Linked DNA regions of Homo sapiens: regions 2, 3 and 4 are each linked to region 1. The links come from fine-mapping of genetic effects on gene expression. A gene starts in region 1. Each other region holds a variant in brackets. All regions are shown on one strand. Distances are between the middles of the regions.

Evidence for each region.
Region 2: its variant is fine-mapped to the expression of NAAA in tibial nerve (GTEx, PIP 0.95).
Region 3: its variant is fine-mapped to the expression of NAAA in whole blood (TOPMed, PIP 0.95).
Region 4: its variant is fine-mapped to the expression of NAAA in esophagus mucosa (GTEx, PIP 0.91).

The regions. Positions count from the first base shown.
Region 1 is chr4:75,938,052-75,943,258 of GRCh38, reverse strand. It overlaps NAAA (N-acylethanolamine acid amidase), which reads left to right and starts at 2,246. Exons shown (of 11, transcript NM_014435.4): 1 at 2,246-2,515; 2 at 3,094-3,258. The coding sequence starts at 2,310. RefSeq lists silencers at 2,024-2,493, 2,894-2,963.
Region 2 is chr4:75,913,121-75,918,327 of GRCh38, reverse strand. NAAA (N-acylethanolamine acid amidase) reads left to right here. Exons shown (of 11, transcript NM_014435.4): 10 at 3,343-3,460; 11 at 3,990-4,668. The coding sequence ends at 3,424. Among named protein-coding and RNA genes, the nearest start is that of PPEF2, 13 kb to the right of the region's middle. RefSeq lists an enhancer at 2,201-2,250. The variant A/G (reference allele first, on the strand shown) is at 2,807.
Region 3 is chr4:75,901,670-75,906,876 of GRCh38, reverse strand. It overlaps PPEF2 (protein phosphatase with EF-hand domain 2), which reads left to right and starts at 4,425. Exons shown (of 17, transcript NM_006239.3): 1 at 4,425-4,647. The variant T/C (reference allele first, on the strand shown) is at 2,891.
Region 4 is chr4:76,007,220-76,012,426 of GRCh38, reverse strand. CXCL9 (C-X-C motif chemokine ligand 9) reads left to right here and starts at 4,918. Exons shown (of 4, transcript NM_002416.3): 1 at 4,918-5,041. The coding sequence starts at 4,978. It also overlaps a transcript of ART3 not described here. RefSeq lists enhancers at 316-375, 663-1,307. The variant G/T (reference allele first, on the strand shown) is at 2,804.

The sequences.
Region 1 (5,207 bases):
CACCATGTTGGTCAGGCTGGTCTCAAACTCCTGACCTCCAGTGATCTGCCCGCCTCGGCCTCCCAAAGTGCTGGGATTACAGATGTGAGACACCATGCCCGGCCTGCTTCACAGTTTCTATGGGTTAGGAATTTGGGGGTGGCTTAGCTGAGGCAGGAAGGTCCACTTCCACCATGGCTCACTCAGATGACTTGACAAGAAGCCTCAGTTCCTCTCTGGCTCTTGGTAGAAGCTCAGTTCCTCAACAAAGGGACTTTCTTTTTTCTTTTTTTTCAATTTTATTTACTTCTTTTTTGGAGACAGGGTCTCACTTTGTCATTTAGGCTGGAGTACAGTGGCGTGATCATAGTTCACTGCAGCCTCAAATTCCTGGGCTCAAGTAATCCTCCTACCTCAGCCTACCAAGTAGCTGGGACTAAAGATACATGCCCCCATGCCCGGCTAATTTATTTTTATTTGTTTGTAGAGATGGGGTCTCACTGTTGCCCAGGCTGGTCTCCAATTCCTGGGCTCAAGCAGTCCTCCTGCCTGACTCTCCAAGTGCTGAGATTTGTGTCCAGCCACAAAGGGACATTTTCATAGGGCTTCCTCAGGACATGACAATGGGCTTCCTATAGTGAGCAATTCAAGAGAGCAAGGAGAAACCCACAGTGTCTTTTGTGACCTAGTCTTGGAAGTCAACCACCAGCAATTCTGATTCTATTCATTAAACCAAGTGACCTCAGATGATCAGCCAGCCAACGTGCTGGGATGACAGGCGTGAACCACCATGTCTGGCAAGAAATTTTGTAATTCCTTTAAGTGTTATCCTTAAAAACAAGTGATTGATTATAAAAGTTGTATTTCTTCATCCTAAAATTGGTAAAAAATAAAAAAAAAATGTGTTTAGTTTCTACTATGCATTTAGTTTTTTTTTTTTTTTTTTTTTTTTTTTTTTTTTTTTTTTTTTTTTTTGAGACAAAGTTTTGCTCTTGTCACTCAGGCTAGAGTGCATTGGCACAATCTCGGCTCACTGCAACCTCTGCCTCCCAGGTTCAAGAGGTTCTCCTGTTCAGCCTCCCAAGTAGCTGGGATTACACCACCACGCCCGGCTAATTTTTGTATTTTTAGTAGAGACAGGGTTTCACCATGTTGGCCAGGCTGGTCTCAAACTTCTGACCTCAGGTGATCCACCCGCCTCAGCCCCCCAAACTGCTGGGATTACAAGCCTAAGCCACCATGCCCGGCCCTTTCATTTAGTTTCTACTATTCATGTACACATGTACCCTGTTTTACCCACAGACAACTGTGCTAACCGTTAAGAATGTCCCAGCCTTACTAAGATTTTCCTAAGTTTGTCTCCCAGACATTGGGAACTCAAAGGTGAAGAAACTTAGGTGTGAAGGTGGATTGTGGATTCAGACCTCCTTACTTGGAGGCCAGTGCAGAGACACACCAGCAGAGTAACCTCGGGTACATGGCTTCACCTCTCCAAGCCTCACACTCCTCATCAGTAAAGCGAGGATTAGTGGAACCTACCTGTTGGCTTGTTTTGATGATTAAATGAGATAATGTCCGCGAAAAATATTTAGCAGATAAATGTTCACTAAATTTTGAGCTTTAAAAAAATGTTTTACCAGCCAGGCGCGGTGGCTCACGCCTGTAATCCCAGCACTTTGGGAGGCTGAGGCCGGTGGATCACCTTAGGTCAGGAATTCGAGACTAGTCTGGCCAACATGGTGAAACCCTGTCCCTACCAAAAATACAAAAATTAGCCAGGTATGGTGGTGGACGCCTGTAATCCCAGCTACTTGAGAGGCTGAGGCAGGAGAATCGCTTGAACCCAGGAGGCGGAGTTGGCAGTGAGCGGATATCTCGCCGCCGCACTCCAGCCTGGGCAATAGAGTGAGACTACATCTCAAACAAACAAACAAACAAGCAAACAAAGTTTAACTGAAAAGTCTTTCCTGACACCTTTTCGCTACTGAAAATCTTACAGCCCCTCCCGGCCGCAGCCTACACTCCTTCGGCCCAAGCAGGTGCGCTGGAACCGGCAGTTGGTGAGAAGCCGGCTGCCGGCAGCCCCAACCCTTAGCGGCCCCGCGGTCAGGGACCTCCAGGCCCGATGGAGAGTCGGGGCGGGCTAGTGGATGCGCGGCGGGGACGGGAGGTGTCGCCGCTCCGGCTTGCCGGTGACAGGGGCGGGCGGGTCGTGCGCGGGCCCCACCTCCAGCGATCGCAGCCCAGCCCCAGCTCCTCCTCCTCCACGGCTTACCCGGGCTCCGACAGCGGCTGCAGGTCTCCAAGTTGCGGCCGCTGGAGCCCGAGCCATGCGGACCGCGGACCGGGAGGCGCGCCCGGGGCTTCCGTCCCTGCTGCTGCTGCTGCTGGCCGGGGCCGGGCTGTCAGCCGCCTCGCCCCCAGCAGCGCCGCGCTTCAACGTGAGCCTGGACTCGGTCCCCGAGCTGCGCTGGCTGCCCGTGCTGCGGCACTACGACTTGGACTTGGTGCGCGCCGCGATGGCGCAAGTCATCGGGTGAGCTGGGGCCCTGGACGGGGTCTGCGGGGACACCGGCCCTGCGGGTCGGAGTCAAACGCGCGCTGCTCAGAGTGCTTTAAACGGGGACGCTTTACTCCCCGCCACCCTTGGAGAACTGGTTTTGGCTGCCGCCCTGAGCAGCGTCCGGGTTGGGGAGAATCCAGCGCGGCAGGTTCGGCTTTCAAGTTCGGTGTCACCCGTGGCACGCCAGTCCTTGAGCCATTCCGGGTCAGCGTGGCGCGCGAGTTGTCGCCCGGGCTGCATAGCTACCAAGGAGGGGCAACCCGCGCCTTCCTTGCGGGCCTCGCGGGCCTTCCAAGCTTGCCCCTTTGGGACCAGCCTCACTCGCCCTCCCCATTCGGAGTTTTCTTACCCGCCGCCTTCCCCCCGCCCCCTTCCCCCCACTCCCGGGAGGCTGCAGATTGAGTGACGCCGCGCCTGGGCGGTCCACTGACTGGGGAGCAGTGGCCCTGAGACCTCACGCCCTAAGGATGTAGCCCCGCTCGCAGTGCACACGCAGTCGCACGCCGCCGACCTCTGAGCGGGTCAGACGCCCTTGTGCTTTTTGTTTCTAGGGACAGAGTCCCCAAGTGGGTGCACGTGTTAATCGGAAAAGTGGTCCTGGAGCTGGAGCGCTTCCTGCCCCAGCCCTTCACCGGCGAGATCCGCGGCATGTGTGACTTCATGAACCTCAGCCTGGCGGACTGCCTTCTGGTCAACCTGGCCTACGAGTCCTCCGTGTGAGTGCCCCAAGCCCGCGCGGAGTAACGCGGGGCTTGCGGGGGCCCCCGACACAGACTAGCGGGAGGAGACATATTTTCCGTGTGATAAAAACAGGGCGGTGCCTGCTTGCCTAGAAACCTCCAGCGCTTCCTCTTTGCCTCTCTGGGTAAATCTGAGCTGCACATCGTAGGCTTCGAGAGGGAAAGCAGATTCTCCGATTCAACACTAAACTTTCCCTCTACGTGTAGCCCCGGGTTTTCTCTTCCCCAATCCAGGTAGCGTACTTTTAAAATTCTGCTCAAAGGCCGGGCGCGTTGGCTCACACCTGTAATCCCAGCACTTTGGGAGGCCAAGGTGGGCAGATCACGAGGTTAGGAGTTCGAGATCAGCCTGGCCAACATAGTGAAACCCCGTCTCTACGAAAAACACAAAAAATTAGCCAGGCGTGGTGGTGGGCGCCTGTAATCCCAGCTACTTAGGAGGTTGAGGCAGGAGAATCACTTGAACCCGGGAGGCGGAGGTTGCAGCGAGCCGCGATCGCGCCACTGCACACCAGCCCTGGCGACAGTGCGAGACTCTGTCTCAAAAAAAAAAAAAAAAAAATTCTGCTCAAAACGTACTTTTCCAGGAAGTTTTTGAAACTAAGCCTCCTCTCATCTGGACCCTTTAGTTAACTCAGTGGCCTTCCAGCTCTATACTGGCAGTGGCTCATCTCTGCCCTTATTTGTCGCCCTGCATTTATCCTTTCATGTGTGTCGTGGCTGAAGTGTCTGTGTCCACCAGGGCTGGGGCGACAGGGAACACTGCTCTAATAGGGCCAGCCAGTGTTTGGACCGGGAAGTGGGCATGATAAAATGTGCATCCAGGCTGGGCGCGGTGGCTCACGCCTGTAATCCCAGCACTTTGGGAGGCCGAGGCGGGTGAATCACCTGAGGTCAGGAGTTCAAGACCAGCCTGGCCAACATGGTGAAACCCCGTCTCTACTAATAATACAAAAAAATTACCAGGGCCTGGTGGCGGGCACCTGTGAATCCCAGCTACTTGGGAGGCCGAGGCAGGAGAATCACTTGAACCCAGGAGGCAGAGGTTGCAGTGAGCCAAGATGGCACCATTGCACTCTGCAGCCTGGGCGACAAAGCGAGATTCCATATCAAAGAAAAAAAGTGCACCCAGAAGTGAAAGCAACATGGAGTGTGTGGTTGATCCCAGGCAAAGTGCAGGGGACCACTAAAGGTTTATGGGCTCAGTAATAGGCCCTGGAATAAAGAGAGGTTTTGACTTGGTTTCTTCCTTCAATACTTATTGTTTTGCCAGCAGACTAGCTTCATCTCGTAACCTCTTGTACATACTTAGAGCTTCTTGCTGCCTAAAGATGATGGGGGTAGAAAAGATCTTGGAATAATGAAACTTTACTGGCCCAGGCATTTTCCCAGAACACCTAGGCAGAGTAAGCTAAAAAGCACTGGGACTGCCTTCCTCTTCAGGAAATGCTTTCAGGCACAGAAAAGACACAGGCCTGCTAAATAACATGCTTTTCAGTTGAACTAAGTTATTATAATTTTACCACCTCCCTCTCCTACCTCCAACTTTTTCCTATTTTTAACTTACAGCTTTCTCAATGAAAAATCACGAATCATTTTTACCCTCATCTGTTGGAGTCACCATATTCAAACACATTAAAGCAAAAGTTCTAGTAAAAACATTCTAACTTTTGGATTTGATACTAAGGTATTTATTGAATTGCCTAATAGCACCATTCAATTCACTAGCATTAACAAAGGAAATGCTTTCTTCTCATGTTGGAAGTAAGCCTTCTTGAATTAGAATAATACTAGCTACCCTTTATTGAGCCTACTGGGTGCCAGGCACTTCATGAACACAGTCCCGTGGGGAAGATGGTATCATCTGTTTTGTGATGTGGAAACCAAGCCTCAGTGGGGCCACCTTGCTGGAAGTCAGGTGGCTG
Region 2 (5,207 bases), 25 kb after region 1:
TCGTGCCACCACGCCCAGCTAATTTTTTGTATTTTTTAAGTAGGGACAGGGTTTCACCGTTTTAGCCAGGATGGCCTTGATCTCCTGACCTCATGATCTGCCCACCTCGGCCTCCCAAATTGCTGGGATTACAGGAGTGAGCCACTGCGCCCGGCCAGCTCTGGGAATCTTAAATTCAAACTTGGCCTTCCATAGTGTTGTCAAACTAGAAGGAAAAACACTTTGACTGGCTGACCTCTTGATTCCTACATTTGAAATATTCTGGCAGTGAGGTGTTCATCCTAACTCAGTCAGGTAGCTGTGGACAGCCTTCACCTGTTAGGAGCTCCTTAGAAATAAATTCTGAATACCTTTGGTTTTCTTTTATCCTCCGGAGGAATTTCCACTATCTCCGAAGCTGTTCCTTGTTCCACTGACAATTCGCTTAGTTAATGTTCTTTTTTAGCCTGTACCCTTGATAGCAGCATTCTGTGAGCAATGGTTTCTCTAGTGTATAGCCTAGGATTTTACTCACATTCTTTTTAATTTCTTTTTCTTTTTTTTTTTTTTTTAAGTGAAAGCAGGCCAGGTGCGGTGGCTCACGCCTGTAATCCCAGCCCTTTGGGAGGCCAAGGCGGGTGGATCACTTGAGGTCAGGAGTTCAAGACCAGCCTGGCCAACATGGTGAAACCTCGTCTCTACTAAAAATACAAAAATCAACCAGGCATGACGGTGCACGCCTGTTATCACAGCTACTTGGGAAGCAGCGGCTGGAGAATTGCTTGAACCTGGGAAGTCGAGGCTGCAAGTGAGCTGAGATCATGCCATGGCAGTCTAGCCTGGGCAACAGAGCGAGACTCTGTTTCAAAAAAAAAAAGAAAAGAAAACTAATTAGTCAGTATTCTGCTACTCAAACAAATGAGCTATTTGGATAACAAAGCATACCCAGTGGTCTGCTAGTAAACCAGCTCTTTGTGTGGGAAGGGACAAATGAAAAAATTCCCAAATTTGTAGCATTTGTTGACTTCCATGGTGTGAATACTCCCACATGGCTGATTTCAGGCTTATAGTTGGCTCATACACTTCCTGCATATTTAATAATTGGCCCTCACCAGACTGTAGGAGCTAGCTCCAATGCACTATTGACTGTACCCTTCATAGCGGGGCACAATGTTGCCCTTTTAATAGTCATTTTTTAAATGGGGGTTAATAAACTACTTTTGTGTTCTTATAGTTTTTTTAGGTAATTATAGAAGTGATGAATATATCTGGCTGGGCGCAGTGGCTCACATCTGTAATCCTAGTACTTTGGAAGCCGAGGCGGGTGGATCACTTGAGGTCAGGAGTTCGAGACCAGCCTGGCCAACATGGTGAAACCTCATCTCTACTAAAAATACAAAAATTAGCCAGGCGTCATGGTGCGTGCCTGTAATCCCAGCTACTTGGGAGGTGGAGGCAGGAAAATCACTCGAATCCGGGAGACAGAGGTTGCAGTGAGCTGAGATTGCACTCCAGCCTGGGCGACAGAGGGAGACTCCGTCTTAAAAAAAAAAAAAAAAAAAAAAAAAAAGAAGTGATGAATATATCTTTTAAAAATTAGTATTATAATAAAATAGTTACATTTATTTTAATAAAACAAAGCATTTTCTCTGCTTTGAACAGCCCTCATAATTTTACATGGTGGCAGTGGCCAGTTGGCTGTATTATAATTGAGTTAAGCATTCTCCAGTTGTTAGATTTTCCTCTATTAAAACTCTGAAATAAACATATTCGTTTGCCTCTCCCCTGCTTACTTTCAGATTATTTCCCTTGGCTGAATTCCCAGAAGTAGGATTACTGAGTTAACAGTTATGAATGTTTAAATGGTTTCTGAAATGGTTTGGTCAAAATAAAATTGTTAGAAATTATAAACAGTTTACCAAGTAGTGTTTTTCTCTGTTGTATACTTGAAAATTCAAGAGAAACTGCTTTTAAGTGACAATCACCATGGAGCCAGAATTAACACAGACTTCTGACTCTCAGGCCCTTTACATGTAATGATTAACCTCAACTGAGGCTGTTCAGTTGTATTAGGTTAATAGAAATAAGTGTAGCTGTATCTGAAAAAAAGAAAAAGAAACAACAAAAAAGTAGTCTGAACAAAGGCAGTTAGCTCTATGCTGCCCCTTTGTGCCATGCTGCAAAATTACACCCACCTGCAATACATCTCCATCCTCTGCTGTGGCTCATCAGTAGAGAAAATACTAAAACAGTAATGGAGAGCAGAACTATGACTAAAGTAAACGAGCAATTAAGGTCCTGTTCAGGGAACCTCCATTACCCTTGGACGAGCTCTGCACTTGCTTACAGTGCTGTCTTTAACTGGGTGTATGATTTAGCTGTGGACCCAGTGCTACTAATTCTGCCTGTTTCTGAACAACCCAGCTCCGATATTTTGCACATGCACCTCAACTGGATTCCAAGACAAATGTGTGTACATGTGGGCACATGTGCTCAAGTTGTTTAGGTCTCTTGTTATACGGAATGTGTAATCAATGACACTATACTTTTCATCCTTAGATCTGGGCAAGGTGGAGGGGCGGGGCAGGTGCCTTGATCCTGGAGCTTTAGAGGCCCTCCTCTGGAATTCCTCTAGTTGTGATACCACCCCCCCAAAGCATGGTGTAAGGAATCTGCTGGACCAAGGGCATTTGCCCACCTGGAGTCTGCCCAAGTACCCAGGACCCTGTAATTCTCAGCCTGAACAGCCCCACCTCCACTTCCAGGGTTTGTGTTTTCCTCTTCCCTGGGTGATATTCTCCTGATGGTGGTGCATGGCCACTGAGAG[A/G]GAGCACAGGGGCAGGTGCTTGCTGGGGAATGTGAAGGCGGTGATGTCACATGTGTGCAAGTAAGGCCCTTGTGGGTAGGACAGAGCCAGGGTGAGGGCCAAGGCTTGGTCTCCCCCACTGCCTTGGGGTAGAGCTCTGAGGAGTCTTGAGATTTTATTTATTTATTTTTTATGAGACAGAGTCTCACTCTGTTGCCCAGGCTGGAGTGCAGTGGCGCAATCTCAGCTCAGTGCAACCTCTGCCTCCCAAGTTTAAGCAATTCTCCTGCCTCAGCCTCCCTAGTAGCTGGGATTTCAGGCACCACCACACCCAGCTAATTAAGTCTGAGAATTTTAAGTTCCAACTTGGCCTTCCACAGTGTTGTCAAAATAGGAGGAAAGTGCACTTTGACCTCTTGATTCATAGATTTAAAATATTCTGGCATAAAGGGCCTTGTCCCAGATCTCAAGTGTTAGGGAAGCACTTGGTCATTTTCTTCCCTTTCTGGCATATTAGAGAAAATGATGTGTACATAAAATTTCCTCATAATTTTCAGCTTCACAATTTATACTACGGTAATGAGCGCCGGTAGCCCAGACAAGTACATGACTAGGATCAGAAACCCGAGTAGAAAGTAAGTCAGCAGAAGAGCGAGTTCGCCCGTGCTGTGAAAGGTTTGTTGTTACTGTTTTGTGGAGAGGGGGTGAGGTGGGTGTGTGCTGGTATTTCTTACAGAGGGTGGTAACATCCTTAAAATGTATACATATATAATATTTTCTGACAAGCATCTGGCATTGTCATTTGTGTCAGATTGTCATCATTAGATATTTTATTTGGAATTGTTTGTATGAAAACCAATCTTCGGCGGGGCGTGATGGCTCATGACTGTAATTTCAGCACTTTGAGAGGCAGAGGCAGGCAGATCACTTGAGGTCAGGAGTTCAAGACCAGCCTGGCCAACATGGTGAAACCCCATCTCTACTAAAACTACAAAAAAACTGTTAGCCAGGTGTGGTGGTGGGTACCCAAAATCCCGACTACTCAGGAGCTGAGGTAGGAGAATCACTTGAACTCGGGAGGTGGAGTTTGTAGTGAGCTGAGATCACACCACTGCACTCCAGCCTGGGAAACAGAGTGAGACTCCATTAAAAAAAAAAAAAAAATCAGTCTTTGAATTAAATGCGTTTTTTTCTTCCCTTACAGATGATTTTTTAAAAAATGAAATTCTTGAAGAGCTGCACCTTAAAAAATAAGACAAAGTGAAAGTATTGTATTATGTTACAAACAATGCAGGCTCCTTCCTCATTTAACTTTACAACCTTGCGAAGTGGGTCCAGGAGATTTGGAGTTTGTGGTAAAGCCAGTAATGGGCATTGTCCTGCATTCCCTTCCCTTCATGGTTTGCCTCGATCCTCTCTAAGCTTCTATCCTGGCCTGAATAACTCAAAGATAATTGGTCTCAGAGATCAAGCCATATCCTCAGGCCTTATTTCCATCTTCTCATGATTCTGCCATCATACCTTTGCTTCTCCGCTAATGAAATGAGCTGGCAAGACCTCTGTTCATTGTGAAGTGCTTCTGAAAGAGCCTAAGAAAAAAGGCTCATCTGAAAGAAATGGAGAACTCTATTTCGAACCAAGCCTGTTTGAATGTGTGTTAGTCTGATCTTTGATCATGTGTTTCCATGTAATGGGAGTCTCGTTTTTTATAATGTTTCTAACGTTTTATTGAAAAACCTATGGCCCTCCTTCTTTCTCAATAGCTACTTTCTTACTGCTTTTTGAAAATAATATGCAACCAAATTATTTCTTAATGTCACATAATTAAGTAATAAAATGTCAAAAGAAATGTTGGCAAGGAGAATAAAAAAATTTCCAAGAAACTTAGCGTTATGCTCTCCCTGCTTTCTTTACCTCCGAAGTCTTATGGTTCTGAACTGCTGTCCTGAGAAAGCAACTCTCTTAGTTGTGATGTTATTTAAGTGTCAGCATTCAAGGGAATGAACAGCTGCTTGGTAGAGTTTGATTTTTCACATGTGCATGAAAGAAATGTCCTTGAGGATGAAGTCAGAAAAGGTTAAAAGTGTAAACGAAAATGTGCCTGAAGCAGCACTCAGTCCATGAGAGAGTTATTTTGCCAAGGCTAAGGATGTGCCCGGGAAAAAGAAACACCAGTCACAGGAGGACCTGTCCTGTGCTTTTCCCAAAGAGGGTTTGAGGAACTTCGGTATTTAAAGGGGAAAGAGCAAGCAGGAGCGGGGGATAAAAAGAGGGTAGACAGTGAGGCAAATGGTTACATTCTTGTGAGCTCTTATTATTGGTGCTCAGTGAATCTACATTTAGCACATGAAAACAAGGGAATGGAGGGAAAGTCAATGATGCATTTATCTCGTGCTCAGTAAATCTACATTTTACATAAGAT
Region 3 (5,207 bases), 36 kb after region 1:
TTATACAAGGTGAATAACTTCTAGAGATCTGTACGTCGTGCCTATTGTACACTTAAAAATCTGTTAAGAGGCCAGGCGTGGTGGTTTATCTTATAATCACAGCACTTTAGGAGGCGGAGGTGGGGGTGAAACAGGAGAGTTCCCTGGCTCCCCTTGCAGGACACTCAACAGGGGTGTTGATCTCTGTTCAGCTGCCACAAGCTCAAACCCCTTATAGGAGCGGGAGGATACAGACAGGCAGGTGCAGGAACCAGAGTGAGCGCTTTTGGGCTCTGGCCCCAGGGCAGCTTCTAGGGGTGGTGCTTTGACTCCTGAAGCCCCAGTAGGCATGCTACAGTGCTCTTTTAACTCTGCCATCCACAGATGGCTTAAGTGTTAACCAGCTCAGTGTCCCCTTGGTACCCGGGCCCTTGTCCAGCACCCAGAAAGAATCAGGTTACACACAGACTTGAAGAGTGGTGAATATGGGGGTTTTATTGAGTGGTGGAGGTGGCTCTCAGCAGGATGGATGGGGAGCTGGAACGGGGACGGAGTGGAAAGATGATCTTCCCTTGGAGTTCAGCAGTCCTGTGGCAGAACTCCTCTCCAACTGTCCCCAGCTGGACTCCTCTAGATATTCAGATGCTCCTTCTCTGCCATGCCGTTCTTCAGTTCTTTGGCTCTTCTGCTCATCTCCTCATGGACCCAGGGATTCGGGGTTTATATGGGTACAGGATGTGGGGTGTGGCGGGCCAAGATGCAACATTTGGGCACGAAAACAGGAATGCCTGTTCCCATTTGGGGCCTCGGGTTTCCAGGCTTGAGGGTGGGGCTTTTGGCAGGTAAATAAATCAAACAAAATAAATAACTTTCCAGTATTTCCCCGTCTCCTGTTCATATCAGGAAGATTGCCTGGGTCTATGAGTTTGAGACCAGCTTGGGCAACATAGTGAGACCTCTGTCTCTACAAAAATAAAAATATTAGCTGGGAGTGGTGATGTGTGCCTGTAGTCCCAAGTACTTAAGAGGCAGAGGTGGGAGGATCACTTGAGCCTGGGAGGTCGAGGCTGCAATGAACTGTGGTCATGCCATTGCATTCTACCCTGGGTGACAGAGTGGGATCCTGTCTCAAAAAAAGAAGAAAATCTGTTAAAAGGGTAGATTTCATGTTGTGTTCTTACCAAAATAAAATAAATTTTAAAAACAAGAGGCAATAAAATTTTTTAATTAAAAAGTTAAAATTTATTTTTTTATTTTGAGACAGCATCTCACTCAGTTGCCCAGGCCAGAGTGCAGTGGTGTGATCTCTGCTCACTGCAATAGCTGGGACTACAGACACACACCACCATCCCCTGCTAATTTTTTGTATTTTTTGTAGAGACAGGCTTTTGCCGTGTTGGCCTGGCTGGTCTTGAATTCCTGACCTCAAGTGATCCACCCACCTCGGCCTTTCACGTGCTGAGATTACAAGCATGAGCCACCACGCCTGGCCTAAAATAAATAAATAAATAAATAAAATTGAAAATTTTATTTAAAAAATTTTGGCTGGGCGCAGCAGCTCACACCTGTAATCCCAGCACTTTGGGAGGCCGAGACAGGTGGATTGCATGAGCTCAAGACCAGCCTAGACAACATAGCAAAACCCCATCTCTACAAAAAATACAAAAATTAGGTGGGTATGGTGGCACATGCCTGTGGTCCCAGCTACTTGGGAGGCTGAGGCAAGAGGATTGCCTGAGTCCGGGAAGGTCAAGGCAGCAGTGAGCTGTGATTGTGCCACTGCAAATACCAGCCTGGGCAAGTAAGACCCGTTCTCAAAAAATATATATATATTTTTAAATAAAAATGGCTTGGCCTACAGAGCTTTCATGGCAGATGGAGAGAGCTGGTTTTCAAAATATTCTGTTTTTAAAAAGTACACAAGTGACTGGGCATCACCATGCTCACGCCTGTAATACCAGCACTTTGGGAGGCTGAGGCTGGCGGGTCACCTGAGGTCAGGAGTTCAAGACCAGCCTGACCAACATGGAGAAACCCTGTGTCCACTAAAAATAAAAAATTAGCCAGGTATGGTGGCACATGCCTGTAATCCCAGCTACTCAGGAAGCTGAGGCAGGAGAATCGCTTGAACCCAGGAAGCAGAGGTTGCAGTAAGCCGAGATTGCGCCATTGCACTCCAGCCTGGGCAACAAGAGCGAAACTCTGTCTCAAAAAAAAAAAAATAATAATAATAAGAACACAAGTAACAGATTTCTAATATAAAAATAAATCAAACAGTACATAATGTGATCCTCTGCCTCTCTTCCCCACTTGTGGATGGCACTCTCCCCATGAGTACCCCTAGTGATAACTGCCATCTGTACTCATTAAGACATTTAAAAATGCATAAACGTTTTAAAATGTAGATTCTATTTTTATTCAGGTATGATAAGGCCAACAGATCAGGGGACAATTGCCATTTAAAAGATAGCTTATTACTCCTCGTTCCCAAGAGGAGAGGTCACACCTGCACAGCCACGGGAGAGAACACTGAGGTTGGTCACAGGCAGAGGACAGGAGAACTGTGGTTTTCGAGGGAAGGAATGGGTGAGGCAGGGTAAGGCGGCTAAGCAGGTGGAGGACTAGCTAGTTGGAATAGTGTCAGCTGACTCCTGACTGTAGACTGCACTGAGTTGTCTGATATATGATGTCAGGGTGATTAGGGTAGAGAGATAACGGCCTTGAGTATGAAAGTCCAAAAAAGGAGGGATTTGGTGGTAGGGCTCTAGATTGGTTAGTTTGCATCTCAGGGATCAGCTAATCCCAGGAGGTGTAGTCTCTCCCTGGTCAACAAGGCCCCAAAATGTCAAAGCATCAATATGGAAACTAGAAAATATGGGTAATACCACATAAAAAAATATCTTAGGTTATT[T/C]TCCAACTTTTCCTAATCACAAATTATACAGTAATAAAAATCCTTATATAGATTTTTGCATGGGTGTATAATTCTGTAAGATACTTAGAAGTATAATTTCTAGATTAAAGGATTTACATATTTTAAGTATGTAATTTAATAAATTACAATTAAAATTTAATTTAATTCCCCCAAAATGAAACATTTTAACGATCCCAGCAATAGTATATGGAGAGGGTCCTTTTTCTCATACTCTCAGTAATACAGGATTTTATCAGTCTTTTAGTCAACTTGGAGAAAGAATGTTAGCAGTCAGCCACTAACAAAAACTAAGCTAATGTGAAAATGTTAATATCAGACAAAAGAGAATCAAATGCAAAAAGAATTTTAAAAGGCAGAGTGATATTTAATTTTTATGTCACCCTCTACCAAGACAGTTAAATGACAATACGGCTTCATGTGTAATTACACAGTTGCCGATGGCAATTTTACATGGTTTAAATTTAATATCTAATTATATAGCTTCAAAACGTGTAATGCAAAGACTCAAATACAAGGAGAATTTGCTAAATCTGTACTTGTCATAGAAATCTTCAAAATACCTCTTTCAAAGATGGTCAGATCAGGAAGAATAAACAAAGATAAAGAGGATCTGAATTAATATAATTAACAAATTTAGGCCGGGTGTGGAGGCTCACACCTGTAATCCCAGCACTTTGGGAGGCTGAGGTGGGCAGATCACTTGAGGCCAGGAGTTGGAGACCAGCCTGGCCAACATGGAGAAACCCTGTCTCTACTAAAAATAGAAAGACTAGCTGGCCATGGCAGCGGGGGTGCCTGTAATCCCAGCTACTCGGGATGCTGAGGCATGAGAATTGCCTGAACCCAGGAGGCAGAGGTTACAGTGAGCTGAGATTGTGCCACTGCACTCCAGTCTGGGCGACAGAGCAAGACTGTCTCAAAATAATAATAATAATAATAATAATAATGAACAAACTTGACCTACTAGATATAGACAAACAGAATATCACTTTCTTTGAGAATTTCCATGGTGCATTTAGTACCTACCAGAACACACACACGAGCATCTTAGATTAACTGAAAAAGTAAGTTGTCCAAGAATAGTGATTAACCACAGATTAGGTTATATCCTAAGGAAAGTGTCCATAGAAAGGGCAGGATATTTCAAGCAGGCTTTGCAAACAGAAAAGCCAGCCCCAACAAAGAATGCCTCCTATGTGTCTTCTGCTGAGGACTCCCCTTGGACTCCAGAGCCCCTAGGCCCCTGTGTCTTGTCAGCACTCTGCTATTTCAGGGCTAAGGAGCTCAGGCTTCTCAGATGTGGCCTGGGAAACACAGTCTTCTAATCCAGGAGAGTAAGAAGATTTAGGACTGACGTGGGTGCTGTTAGAGAAACCCATCTCCTTGGGTATATGGGAGATACCCCGACTATGCAGTCGCCCCCTTCAAATCTTCCTTGGGGGCCTGATCTGACTGACGTCAGGGGGTGCCTACTCCTTCGAGGCAAGAAGCCTGAACTTTCCTTCCTGTCACTGTGAATACTTGGCCAGGGCTGTGAATGTCACCATTGCTTTTCAGGAAGAAGACATGGCAGACTAGGGCTGCACCTTCTTTATGGGCTCTGTAGGTCTGAAAGAAATCAGATCAGCCTGGGATCCCTCAGCCAACTCTGAAGACAGGATGGGGATCACGCCTGCATGTTAAAGAGATTTCTGCCTTGTTGTGTCTCATGGTAAATAAAAAACCCAGCAAAGAAGGTAAGAACTTTCTGTCTAGCCTAAAGTAGAAATGGGTGAGAACAGGAGGGCGACACTTATGTTTTTACCTAGGAAATAAATACAGAGTTGTTTTGAGACAAAGGTCAAAGACAGCTCCTCTGTTATCTATCAACTCATCCAGATGGGGTCTTTGCTATCTGTGTGATGAGATCTTCAAGTGCTGGGTGACCATTCTGCCCTGGATTTCTTGGGCTCACTTAGTGGACAGATAAACACTTTTTTTTTCCACCTAAGAGACAGAGTCTCACTATGTTGCCCAGACTGGAGTGCAGTGGCTGTTCATAAGTGCAATCATAGCACACTACAGCCTCGAACTCCTGGGCTCAAGCAGTCTTCTCACTTCAGCCTCCTGAGTAGCTGGAACCACAGGCATGCTGCACTACCACCCCTAGCTAATTTTTGTTTTTCATGATAATGTGAGGCATTGATGATGCTAAGTCAAATTCTAGAAGGAGAAGGGGTCTCACCCACGTTGGGTGGATGTACTCATCACCTGGAGAGATGGCTCAGCTTGGGAAATCATCAGGGGGAGAAGACAG
Region 4 (5,207 bases), 69 kb before region 1:
AATCAGAATATTCTCTTGGGGCTTCTAAGACTTTCAAGAAATAAACCCCTTTCTAGTCAGTTTAATACTAACAACAGCTGCCGAGAGGAGGGGAAATCCACACTGTGAGAAATTCAAACAGGCCTGGAGGTTTCTTTATGAGAGAAACTTCTCCTCTCACAAGTAAAAAGGGAAGGCTCTTACCGTCCCTGCCACAGAGTCAGTCACACTGGATAATTAAACAGAACACCTCGATTCCACAACCAAAAAGATTCAAGAGGGAGGCTGGGCCACACTTGTGAAAACTAAGAATTCCGCTTTGTAAAGTTCTTTGGGGTTACATTAGCATTTGGATCCCCTACGGACACAGAACTGGAATTTTTCAAGGCACAGGAAGTTAAAATTCTTGTCCAAAAAGGAATTGGTAACTGTTGATTTCAACTCTAGATCATCTTTGGCTCCATTCCCAGGGCTGTGAGAAACGCCTGCAACATCCTCTCATCAGGTTTCTGTTTCTCCTAAAAGCCTTGTCTAGCCATAAATGCAACGATCAATGGGATTTTCTCCTTCCCGCTGCCTGCTTCCTGAGAGAATGTGGTTGCTCTCAGACTTTGCATGACAAGTTCCTAAACGAAGCCCAGGAAACTAGTGTCTGGACAGGCCTGAGCTGGGCGCAGCGGCCCCAGCCTGCTCAGAGGGGCGGGGCCCTACCCTACCATGGCAGAACAGTTTCACCACGAAGTAGGGTCAGGCGAGAGAAGCCCTCCCATTCCGCTTGCTATCTCAGAAAATTAGCCCCTTTTTGGGTAACAAATAAGATCTGGCCTCAGTGACTCCCAACTGACCCCAACACCTCCTTTCTCTTATCCGAAGGGCCTCTTTCCCAGTCACTGAAGCCCACGGCCCAGGGTTACCCCTAAGCCCAGTGCCCTGGCCCTTCTGGGGCCGTCGTTCCCTGCTGGCCTCACCCAAGCCTCGTGTGAAACCTGCAAAACGGGCCTCTTCGCTCATGGCCACCGCCGCTGAGAACCTTCCCACCCATCCCCAAAAGCACGGCCATCTCGGCTGGGGAGGCTGCGGGCCGCTCAGGGGACAGAGAGGAGAGATCCTGAAGGCACAACCCCTACCTTTTGCCCCCAAAGTGCTTCTCTTCGCCTCCGGCTGGATCAGCACTGGCAGCAAACGTACCCAGCGGCAACACGAGCAGCACGAGCGAGCGTCGAGACCTCCGGGTATAACCTCCTCACTGAAGAAGGTTCTGGAAGACCAGTTGGCTGGGCATGCGCAGTACACGCACCTTGGGCCCGGCTGAGGTCGCTGCGTGTGAGGCCCCTGGAGCCAGGCAGCCCTTTACAGACCCTATCCAACTTCCAGACCTGCCGAGCCAGCTCCCAGCTCCTTCCCTCATGCGTGTGCGCTTACTGGGTGCTAGGCACTGTGTTTAGCACCATGCTCAGACGGGGAGCGTCGCAGGCCTTCCTTGCCTAGTGGTGGAAGGAAATGTTAACCATAGGGTTGCAGGGAAACGTAGCGTTGCTGCGGACACGGGCTCAGCAAGGCCTCTGCAAGTGTGCGGTGAGAGCCCCTCTGGGGTTCAGGAAAGTCTTCCCAGGGAAATGATGCTGGCCTGGGTAACTATGGTGAGTAACTACTATGCAGGAGGGCAGGAATGAGGAGCATGCACAGTCGCTCCAGGCAGAAGAATGGCATGAGCAAAAACAGTGCCATGGGAAGGAGCATTGTCCCCTTTGAAAACTGAGAGAAGGGCCGGGTGCAGTGGCTCACGCCTGCAATTGCAGCACTTTGGGAGGGCGGGCAGATCACTTGAGGTCAGGAGTTCGAGACCGGCCTGGGCAACGTGGTGAAACCCGGTCTCTACTAAAAATACAGAAATTAGCCTGGCATGGTGGTGGATGCCTGTAATCCCAGCTACTTGGGAGGCTGAGGCAGGAGAATCGCTTGAGCCTGGGAGACGAAAGTTGCCGTGAGCTGAGATTGCACCATTGCACTCTAGCCTGGGCAAAAAAAAAAAACGGTCTCAAAAAGAAAGAAAAGAAAAGAAAAGAAGAGGGGAGGGGAAGGAGAAGGAGAAAAGAAAAGAAAACTGAGAGAAGACAAAGTGATGGGAGCAGAGAGCTGTGTAAGAAGAGGCTAGAAAGGTGGGTAGCACCAACAGTGCTGGGCCTTAGTTCTTATCCTAAGAAATTTCCATCCTCCTTTCTTTGCTGGAAAGAACAGCCACTAGCCCTGTGAGGCTTTGCAGTTGACAATCCGTCCTTGGCATTAATTTTAACACCCTGTGAGGTCTAATAATTTTCTTAAATGAGGGAGATGAAGCTCACAAAAATTAAGTATTTTGCACACAGTCATTAAGTGGTAAAGCAGGAACGTGAACCTATTTGCACTCTATGCATTGCCACAGTCAGTACCAAAATTAAGCATGAGCAAATGGATAAGCTGTATCAATGGTCACCACATGTTTTATTCAAAAAGAATTCTGTAATTCCATTTAAGTATTAATAATCTGTATAGAAGTCAGTCAAAAAATGTGCACCATGTGACATGAAATGCTAATATCCATTTTCCTCCAATTCTACAGCATGCATTGTCAATGGGAAGAGAGGTAAATTGCTCCCAAGGGGGAAAATATTGGTTCTTGGAGAGCTAAAAAATTTTAGATATTGCAATGACTAGTGGCCTACCAAGGTTCAACCCTACCCAACAAAATCTTATTTCTTAGCATTTGATTTCTCTCTTCAGGAAGAAATTAAATTTAGTTTTCAGTTCATTTTATTTTTTCTCAGAGCAAGGTGAAATGTGGGGG[G/T]GTGTGTGTGTGTGTGTGGGTGCACATGCGCGCACACACGCATGCAGTGCTGAGTCCATAATGAAAAAAAACGTTGAGAAACATTGTTTTACAATAAGGAAATCTCCAATCTTTAGCTAGTCAACCAAAATAAAGATGACGTTTCTTAACTTCCCCTACAACTAGGTGTAGCCATGTGATTAAGGCCTGCCTCCATGGGAGGTGATAGAAAATGATGGGTGCAACTTCTAGGATGTCTAAAAAGGAGGGACATGCCCTTTTTCTGCCTTCTCATCATCCTATACCTGGAAATTGGACATGGTGGCAAGCCACCTTTGGCCATGTGCATGAGGGCAGCAATCTAGAGATGGTGACAACACAAGAAAGGAGAAGCCTGGAAGACCTCATGGGAAAGAGCCACTATCCAAGTGCTAATCCACCTACATCTCTCAGGGAGAAATAAGCTTCTATCTTAGCCACTGTTTTCTGTTGTTGTTTTTTTTTTTTTTATTTTTCCATAAGTTATTGGGGTACAGGTGGTATTTGGTTACACGAATAAGTTCTTTAGTGGTGATTTGTGAGATTTCGGTTCACCCATCACCCAAGCAGTATACACTGCACCCTATTTGTAGTCTTTTATCCCTCACCCCGCTCCCACTCTTCTCCACAAGTCCCCAAACTCCATTGTATCATTCTTATGCCTTTGTGTCCTCATAGCTTAGCTCCCACATACCAGTGAGAACAGATGATGATTGGTTTTCCATTCCTGAGTTACTTCACTTAGAATAATAGTCTCCAATCTCATCCAGGTCACTGCTAATGCCGTTAATTCATTCCTTTTTGTGACTGAGTAGTATTCGATTGTGTATATATAAACCACAGTTTCTTTATTCACTCATTGATTGATGGGCATTTGGGTTGGTTCCATGATTTTGCAATTGTGAATTGTGCTGCTATAAACATGCATGTGCAAGTACATTTTTCAAATAATGACTTCTTTTCCTCTGGGTAGATACCCAGTAGTGGGATTGCTGGATAAAATGGTAATTCTGCTTTTTAGTTCTTTAAGGAATCTCCACACTGTTTTCCATAGCGGCTGTGCTAGTTTACATTCCCACCAGCAGTGTAGAAGTGTTCCCTGATCACCAAGTCCACACCAACATCTGCTGTTTTTTGATTTTTTGATTATGGCCATTCTTGCAGGTGTAAGGTGGTATCACACCGTGGTTTTGATTTGCATTTCCCTGATCATTAGTGATGAGCATTTTTTCATATGTTTGTTGGCTATTCGTGTATCTTCTTTTGAGAATTGTATATTGATGTCCTTAGCCCACTTTTTAATGGGATTGTTTGTTTTTTACTTAATGATTTGTTTGAATTCATTCTAGATTCTGGATATTAGTCCTTTGTCAGGTATATAGATTGTGAAGATTTTCTCCCACTCTGTGGGTTGTCTGTTTACTCTGCTGACTGTTCCTTTTGCTGTGCAAAAGCTCTTTAATTAGGTCCCAGCTATTTATCTTCATTTTTATTGCATTTCTTAGCCACTGTTAATTTGGGTCTCTTACATGCAACTGACCCCTTATTCTAACCAATTTATTAGTTTAAAAAATAATACTGTAGCAGGAATGATACAGAATGAGCTTACCACTAGTAGAAAATGACCTGGTCCCAGAGGAAATTAAGGTGCTTTAAGTTGTTAAGTGGGCAATATAAGAAAATATCAATGTAGCCATCTATTATACAGAAGAATATGCCATAAATAGTAAGGGAATTTGAAAAGTATATTATTTATCTGGACTTTAATATTTCCCATCTGGAAACCACATCTCCAACCTTTGTTGTATAACATTAGTATATTCATTATATAACCTATTCTTCACACAGGTGAGCAACTGTGAATGTGCCAAAGGCTATCAGTGTTGCTAGTTTCACATCCCTTACTATAAACCACCCATTTATGTGAAATGGAAATAAAAACATGCAGAAATTCCCTTGGATCTGAGACTAGGGTTTCCCCCAGCACAATCAAGTTTGTGGTCAATTTAGTTAGCTCAGCTAAAGATACTAGCCAATCAGAGTTTAGGAGAGAAATGAATATCCTAAATAAATATGATCCCCAAAATGTGTTCTCTAAAGAATTTCTCAGGCTCAAAATCCAATACAGGAGTGACTTGGAACTCCATTCTATCACTATGAAGAAAAGTGGTGTTCTTTTCCTCTTGGGCATCATCTTGCTGGTTCTGATTGGAGTGCAAGGTAAGGGGTTCTGAGTTAGGTTGTAAAGTAAGAGAAGTGATTCACTGTAAAAGAATCTTGATTAGCCAGATAAAGGTGAATGTTCTGCCTGCATTGAAGAGTAATATTTGGTCAGTCATAAAAGCTTCTCAGTGACATGACCAGTTATCCAAAGTTCATAACTTCG